Regions from separate parts of the Homo sapiens genome. Here region 1 is reported to be linked to region 2. Evidence: microRNA targets listed by miRTarBase, many of them from high-throughput screens and not tested one by one. Region 2 holds a microRNA gene; the other region holds the end of a gene's coding sequence.

What was found. The annotated mature microRNA hsa-miR-1277-5p reads AAAUAUAUAUAUAUAUGUACGUAU and lies in region 2 at 1,455-1,478, opposite strand. An mRNA with a match to its seed (bases 2 to 7 or 8) in the 3' UTR can be bound and repressed. Matches are read on the target gene's strand: a 7mer-m8 pairs with bases 2 to 8, a 7mer-A1 pairs with bases 2 to 7 and ends in A, and an 8mer does both.
Region 1: the mRNA of TTYH3 is a reported target of hsa-miR-1277-5p. The part of its 3' UTR that is shown has no 7-base or 8-base seed match.

What each region holds. Positions count from the first base shown.
Region 1 is chr7:2,660,999-2,665,055 of GRCh38, forward strand. It overlaps TTYH3 (tweety family member 3), which reads left to right. Exons shown (of 14, transcript NM_025250.3): 14 at 670-3,804. The coding sequence ends at 741. Among named protein-coding and RNA genes, the nearest start is that of AMZ1, 25 kb to the right of the region's middle. RefSeq lists enhancers at 1-33, 114-213, 3,877-4,057.
Region 2 is chrX:118,383,814-118,387,878 of GRCh38, reverse strand. It overlaps MIR1277 (microRNA 1277), which reads right to left and starts at 1,485; the gene lies at 1,408-1,485. It overlaps WDR44 (WD repeat domain 44), which reads right to left. Exons shown (of 20, transcript NM_019045.5): 3 at 465-539.

The sequences.
Region 1 (4,057 bases), not on the chromosome of region 2:
CAGGACAGCGCCCCCTGCAGCCGCCTCTGTTCCTAAGTCCAAGACCCCCAGGAGCCCACAGTTGGGTCCCCCACGGGAGGGGGGGCTGCATTGCTCCAGCCTCCTGTGTGGCTTAAGGGGCCCTCCTTCCATGGCGTGAAGGGGCAGAGTAGCCCGGGGGATGTCCTCAGGCTGGGGCCTCCGTACTCCTGCATGCTGTGGCCTGGCTGTAGGTGGACCCGGCCCTGAGCCCGGAGGAGGCCTTGGCCCGGCCCTGGAGGGTGGCTGGTTTGTGTCCTTCAGGTCCTGGGTGCGTAAGGTGCAGGTAGGGCCTTGGAGCTGTGGCTCCTGGGGGTGGCAGAACTCTGCCTGGCCCAATGCCCAAATGCCGCTGGTGTGGGCATGGGAGGCTGTGTGTACGCCCCTCCTCAGAGGAGACATCCCCTGTCCTGAGCCTGGAGAGTTCGGGGGCTGCCCCTCCCTCAGCCTCAGCCAGACCTAGAGCGCAGGGGCCCCCAGCCAGCGGCCCCTCCTTAGCCCCTCCCTATAGGCTCTGTCAGGGCACCCTGTACTGTCCCATTCTGCCCCCAGGGCTGTTGGCTCAGCCAAGTGAGGACCACGCGGAAGGCGCCCCTGGCTGCGTGCGCCATGCAGGGGCCCTGCTGATGCCTCCCCCTTGTCTCCCTCCAGTACACCTCCAGCATGAGAGCCAAATACCTCGCCACGAGCCAGCCTCGCCCTGACTCCAGCGGCAGCCACTAGACCGCGCCCGGCAGCCACCCACCCCACGTGCCAACTTCCCCTCCCCGTGCCAGCACTGCCGCTTCCACCTGGGCCACCCACCGGACCCTCGCACGCCGTGCCAGGCCTGCCCCAGACGCGTCTGCAGGCCGCTTGCCCTCCTGTCCCCTCCCCGCAGGGGCACAGTGGAGACGCAGGGGCTCTGGGCCCGTACCGCCAACTCGGGTCACACCTGAACGCTGCTGCCAGCCGATGCCCCAGCCCTGCACGCCACCCACTATCCCGGCACGCTCCCTCTGCAGATGGTCGCCGCACCTACAAGCCCTGGCCGCACCCAACCTGTGTTGTTGCCGCCCGGCCCTTCCCTCCACAGCTCTCCTTCCTCCCGCCCGGCACTTCTGTGGACCCCTTCTTAGTTCACAGGCACGGCTGGGGCCGCTCTGTGCTGGCGCCTGCTGGCCACTGAGGGACAGGGACACGTGCCACCTGCTCATCTCTGCCCTGAGGTCACCCCGTGGTCCCTCCACGTGCCCATCTCTCTGCAGTGCCCTCCTCGCCTGTGCAGCCCGCCCACCCACAGGCTCACCCCTCCTGCCGGCTGCCAGAGGCCCCCTCCAGCAGGGCCTCTCTCCGTTGCCCCAGCTTCACTCTCTCCCTCAGCACCTGCCCTGCTGGAGGCCCCAGCCCTCCGTGGACAGCAGGGGCCACGTGGAGCCCGGGCCGCTCACCCGCCACCCAGTGCTGGCCGCCTTCTTGGTGCCAAACCCCCTTCCCCCACCCAGAGACTGGGCAGCTGTGTCTGGTTCGTTCTTTGCACTAACCACATTTGTCATCTCTAGGGCAGGCTGGGGCTGCGGGCTGAGGGGGACCGCTGGCACCCCCCTTCCCTCCCTTCTTGGTTCCATTTCCATCCATGACAGGTACAGCATCCCAGGAGCCCGGCCTGAGGGGCTGGACCCGAGCCGGCTGTGAACATCCCTCAGCCCCTGCTGTCCCCCCTTGGGACTAACCACTAACCTCACCCCCAAACTCCACGGGTGCCCCTAGCTGGCCCAGAGCCGGCAGTGTGAGCCCAAGTCCGGGCTGGAGCCGAGGCCGGAGCAGCTGTCTGGGAGTCAAGGCTGCAGTAGCGTTTCTTCATGGGGTGCTCCAGGGGGTGCCACAGACCGACAGGCAGCCCAAGGGCCTGGACACCCCTCCCCAGGCAGGTGCTGCCCCAGGAGGACTGTCCTCGGGAATGAACCTCCCGCGGGCTTTGGACTGAGGTCCCTGTGGCCTCGGTCTCCTCCCCATGAAGTGGGAGCGAGGCTCCCCAATGGTGCTTTTGGCTTTAGTGTACGATGTTTGCTGTGCTTCCCGCCGTGGAGGGCAGAGCCACCCCACATCAGGATCGGACGTGCTACCCCTCCCGGTCCCGGCCCTGGCCCAGCCAGCCCAGCCCTCGAGGCTCGATGCCTGTGCCAAGGCCAGGGGCAGCCAGAGGGCAGCTGGATGGCCACGTGCAGGGGTCAAGGCTGGGCCCTGCAGTGGGGCGGGCCGCCAGCCCCAGCAGTTTACAGACGCATGGCTCTTCCTCCCAGAGCAGCCGGCAGCTACCTGGACCGGAAATGTCCTCATCCCCTCCCTGGGGCCAGGCTCTGCCCTGGCCTTCCTCTGTGAACCCCTCCTTTCTTTGTGCTGGTGTCTGGGACCAAAAAGGGGGAATATGGGAGGGCAGAGTGGGGAGGGGAGTCCATGGGCCTGGGGCCCCAAGCCGGGGCGTCTGAGCTCCCCAGGCATGACCAAACCTCAGTGGAGGGGCCTCTGCTTCAGGCCCCGCCTGGCTGACATTCTGAGCCCCCCTCGGAGGCCCCGCCACAGCCAACCTGCCCAGTCTTTCCTCTGGGCTTGACCCGCCAGGGGAGTTCTCCAGGCCTAGGGCCAGGAGAGAGGCCCTGGCACCCTGGCGTGGGTGCCCGCCAAACGCCCTGCGACCGCTCAGAAGCACAAATGCTGTCCATGGCCGTGAGGCTGCCTGCCAGGTGAATGGACATAGCGTGAGAGGCGGTGAGGCCAGGGCTTCCAGCCTCGTGCTGTCTCGGGACTCCTGACCGTGGTGTGCGTGTGTGCCCGTCTGTGACTTTCTACTCACCAAGGTTGAAGAAAGGAAACGGGGAAAATCAAAAGGGGTTCAAACCCCACCTCAGTAGGTGGAGGGGAGCGCCTGCCATTGGTTGTATTTTTGTTCTGAGTTTTCGGTGCCGTGTTCCTAACTACTCCATCCCATGACCTCGCCACACCTACTGGGGCATCTGGCTGGTGCCTGCTGCCATGGCCAGCCCCCACTCTCACCCTGCACAGGGGGTCTTGCAGCCCCCAGGCCCACAGCCTCGTTGGGAGGACAGGGTGGCCCTGGGGACAAGAGGGAGGAGCCCAGGGGCTTACCTCACTGAGAGTGCTCCCCAGCAGGCATCCACTACCCCAGGGCCCCCCACATGTCATGGCAAGGTTGGTAGTGAATGGGCCTGGTTGGGAGCAGCCCCTGGCCCATTGCCCACCCACCCATCTCACTATGCAATTCGAGTTCCAAGCAACATTTGCTCCTGCCCTGGGGCCAGCTCTGCCCCAGCCCTGAGAGGGGTGGTGAGGCAGCCCCCTGGACCCCAGAACCCCAGACAAGGGGGCAGGCGGGGGACCAGGGCCTCTCCTGTGGGATCTTTGTTTTGTGTTTAACCATAATGGTTGTGTACTGAACCACTTCATATTTGTTATATATAATATATATATATATAATCTCCTTAAGACTCAGCCTCCTGGTTTACCCCCCCGGCCTGGGCATCTGACCTCCCCCACCCCAGTGTGATTTAACATCCAGGAACTGAGGCCTGAACCATTTTGCATTTCCCCCTCCTCCAGCCTCTGTAGGGCCATGGCTGTATGTACTGTCGCTGTGTTTTTTTGTTTTTTTAGAACTGGGTTTGGGGGCTGATTTTTATTTCTTTGGGGGCTTTTTTTCTTGGCAAATACTAAAAATCTCGTCAATGTAATTTCTGTGGTTTCTATTCAGCTTGGGTTTCATGTTTTAAAATAAATTTTAAAAAGCAAGCCTCTCTTCCTGAGCTGCTTTGGCTCCTGGCTGGGCGCTGGTAGGGAGTCCACGGCTCCAGGCAGGGGCATTGGGGGAACAGGGGGACACTGAGGGTGGGGCCGACCAGGTCAGCTCCGAGGGGTCGGCTGGGCGGGGCCTCTTGTGGTTGCGGGCGGGGCCTCTCGGGGTTGTGGGCGGGTCTTCAGGGGTGGGCGGGGCCTCGGAGTGACTGGGCGGGGCGCCGGGGACAGGCTCTCCAGGGATGGGGTG
Region 2 (4,065 bases):
TTCAAAATACTGATCTTGTGCTCAGTCTCTTCTAGTAAACCAACCTTTGAAGCTTCATAGCATCAATTTTTTAAAAGGTATCAGGTACTATCAGAGTAAGGACTTCTTATAACTTCTGATTCCTAAAGACATCAGAATGTTGCTGCACTGAGCTTTTCAATACCCATAACTCCTGGTAGTAACCTCAAGAAGAGTTAGGGCTTATTCTGATAAAAATACAAGAACAAAAAATAAAAGCATTTTACAAAATATTGTCTCAAGGATAAATTACCAATTAGAATATGAAAAGGACTTCTAAAAAGACTGAAATGTCTTCAACCACAAATGTGACAGATTCATGAAACATTTGCTGAACATCAGCCATGTACAGAGCGCTATACTAAAAGAATATAAAAGCTGTTTGAAATATACCATATAAATATGATGTCTGCTATAAACTAATATTGACATTGTATCTTTCCAACCTTTTTAGACACATCTTGTTTCAATTCTTGTACAGGGGACTCATTTCCAACTTTGTATGCAGTGTTCTCTGTTTCCTGTTTGAAAAAGAAAAGAAATAGAGACCAAATGATGACATCTTTTCTTTAAAAATATGCTTTAAAGGGGTACAAATGAGAAAATGTAGCATTAATAAATCAAAGGCCCTTAAAGGGCTTTGATTTCTTCTTCTTCTTTTTTTTTTTTTTTTTTTTTTGAGACAGAGTTTTACTCTGTCACCCAGGCTGGAGTGCAGTGGCACAATCCTGGCTCACTGCAACCTCTGCTTCCCGGGTTCAAGTGATTCTCCTGCCTCAGCCTCCCGAGTAGCTGGGATTATAGGCGCGTGCCACCACACCTGGCTAATTTTTGTAATTTTAGTACAGACAGAGTTTCACCTTGTTGGCCAGGCTGGTCTTGAACTCCTGACCTCAAGTGATCTACCCACCTCAGCCTCCCAAAGTGCTGGGATTATAGGTGTGAGCCACTGTGCCCAGCCTAAAGGGCTTAGATTTCTGAATACTGATAGATGCTCAGAAATTTTATGCCAAATGGGACAATGTAATTTGCATAAGAAAGTTACCCATCAGCAATATTCTATTATTCTGCAATAGGATATTTACCTTTAAATGTGAAAACTTGCTCAACTTTTTAACATTAAAAAACTGTAATGGACGATAAGAACTTCTACGTACTTTTATAGCTAAAAAGGATTAAGGATTTAAGCAAGGGGCTGAATAAAAATTGTTATTTTCCCCAAAGCATTGCTCCATAAATATGCACAAATACAAAAGTTTATAACACAGAAAACCACATTCAGGGAATAGTTTTCTTAAAATTCTACATGCTTTAGATAAAAGAAATCAAGACTTAACCAGAAGTTAAATGAAGCCCCTAAAAAAACTATGAAAAAAGATGAAAAAAATTAAACCCACCAAAAATACATATATATCTACGTATACATTTATATACACATACGTACATATATATATATATTTGGGAGGTTAGAAATGGATACTGCATTTCTGCTGGAAAAAATTAGGGTAAAATAAGACAATCATATATTTGCAAATCTCAATACAATACTCTTCTCAATCTTAAGTTGTCTATTTATAGAAGCACAGCAATTTGAATGCTACTCTTGATACTGAGGAAAAAAAACCATAATTCTTTGTGCACATCACAGAGTTTGTTAGAGGAAGGTCATTATAACCATTTTAGACAGATAAAGGACTCAAGGCACATTAATTATTTAGGTGGCACTTATACAAGTATCAGGATATGATCACAATAGGCTCAATAATGAAATTACTCCAGAGATTATTAAAATGTTAAAGATTTAACGTGCCAGTGAAATTTCTGTAGGACTTGCAATATCTTCGAGCACTGAATTCCTCCCCCAGAATTTGGAGAATACTACCAATCTTACACAGATTCTTCTAGAAAAAAAAAAATGTTTCATGGACTCTTAAGTATTAGATAAAATCCAAACAGTACCAAGGCCCATGAAGGCCTAAACATGACATAGCCTCTGCCTACATTTTTGATATCTTCTACACTCCTCATCTCCCTCTCATATCACTCCCCCACAATTACATTCTGGCCAATAGGATGATTCCTTGCCATTAGGGTCATAGCTCAAGTGCTATTTTATCAGAAAATACTTCCCTGACCATCTCAAAATAGCCTTAGCTGACTCCTTAACTTTCTATCACATTATCCTATTTTTCTTTTTTTTTTTAACTTTAAGTTCAGGGGTACATGTGCAGATTTGTTACACAGGTAAACTTGTGTCATGGGGTTTTGTTGCACAGATTATTTCATCACCCAGGTATTAAGCCTAGTACACATTAGTCATTTTTCCTGATCCTCTCCCTCCTCCCACCCTTCACCCTCTGATAGGCCTCAACATGTGTTGTTCCCCTCTATGGGTTCATGTGTCCACATCATTTAGCTCCCACCTATAAGTGAGAACATGCAGTATTTGGTTTTCTGTTCCTGCATTGATTTGCTAAGGATAATGGCCTCCAGCTCCATCCATGGCCCTGCAAAGGACATGATCTCGTTCTTTTTTATGGCTGCATAGTATTCCATGGTGTATATGTACTACATTTTCTTTATCCAGTCTATCATTGATGGGCATTTAGGTTGATTTCATGTCTTTGCTATTGTGAATAGTGCTGCAATGAACATGTGTGTGCATGTGTCTTTATAATAGAATGATTTATATTCCTTTGGGTATATACCCAGTAATGGGATTGAGGAGAGGATGTCAAACTATCCCTGTTTGCAGACAACATGATCTTATATCTAGATAACCCATAGTCTCAGCCCAAAAGATTCTTAAGCTGATAAACAACTTCAACAAAGTCTCAGGATACAAAATAAATGTGCAAAAATCACTAGCATTATTATACACTAATAACAGCCAAGCAGAGAGCCAAATCAGGAATAAACTCCCATCATTTGCAATTGCCACGAAAAGAAAATACCTATGAATACAGCTAACTAGGGAGGTGAAAGGAGAACTACAAACCACTGCTCAAAGAAACCAGAGATGACACAAACAAATGGAAAAACATTCCAAGCTCATGGATAGGAAGAATCAATATCGTTAAAATGGCCACACTGCCCAAGGCAATGTATAGACTTAATGCCATTACTATTAAACTACCACTGAGATTCTTCACAGAACTAGGAAATTTTATTTTAAAATTCATAGGGAACCAAAAAAGAGCCTGAATAGCCAAGGCAAATCCTAAGCAAAAAGAACAAAGCTGGAGGCATCATGCTACCCGACTTCAAACTATGCTACAGTGCTACAGTTACCAAACAGCATGGTACTGGTACAAAAAGAGACACACAGACCAATAGAACAGAATAGAGAATACAGAAATAAGACCGCACACCTACAACTATCTGATCTTCGACAAACCTGATGAAAACAAAGAATGGGGAAAGGCTTCCCTACTCAATAAATGGTGCTGGGAAAACATTATCCTATTTTCCTTCATTGCACTTATCGTTCGAAATGACCTTATTTACTTGCTTATTTTTTGTCTCTTCCCTGTCCCACTAGAATGTAAGCTCCATGAGAGATGGACCTTGTTTGTTCTATCTACAGTTTGTTCAGTACCTAAAACAGTGTCCAGCACTAAATAATCATTTGCTGAATGAATGTTGAATGATGCATGCTCTGTTTTTTCTTCAGTTAATACATACATCTTAAGTTTACATAGGCTTTAATTGGATCCTGGTTTTATATGAAAGAAGGCCGGGCACAGGCTGAAACCCGGAGTTTGAGACCAGCCTGGGCAACACAGTGAGACCTCGCCTCTAAAAAAAATAATAATTAGCCAAGCATGGTGGTATGTGCCTGCAGTCCCAGCTACTTTGGAGGTTGTTGTGGGAGGACTACTTGAGCCTAGGAGCCTGAGGCTGCAGTGAGCTATGATAATGCCACTGCATTCCAGCCTGGGGAAGAAAGCAAGACCCTGTCTCAAAAAAAAAAAAAAAAAAAGAAATTAAAAAAAAGAAATAAAAATCTAACCAAGACCAATTGATAAGATAACCTTGACAAGGTGG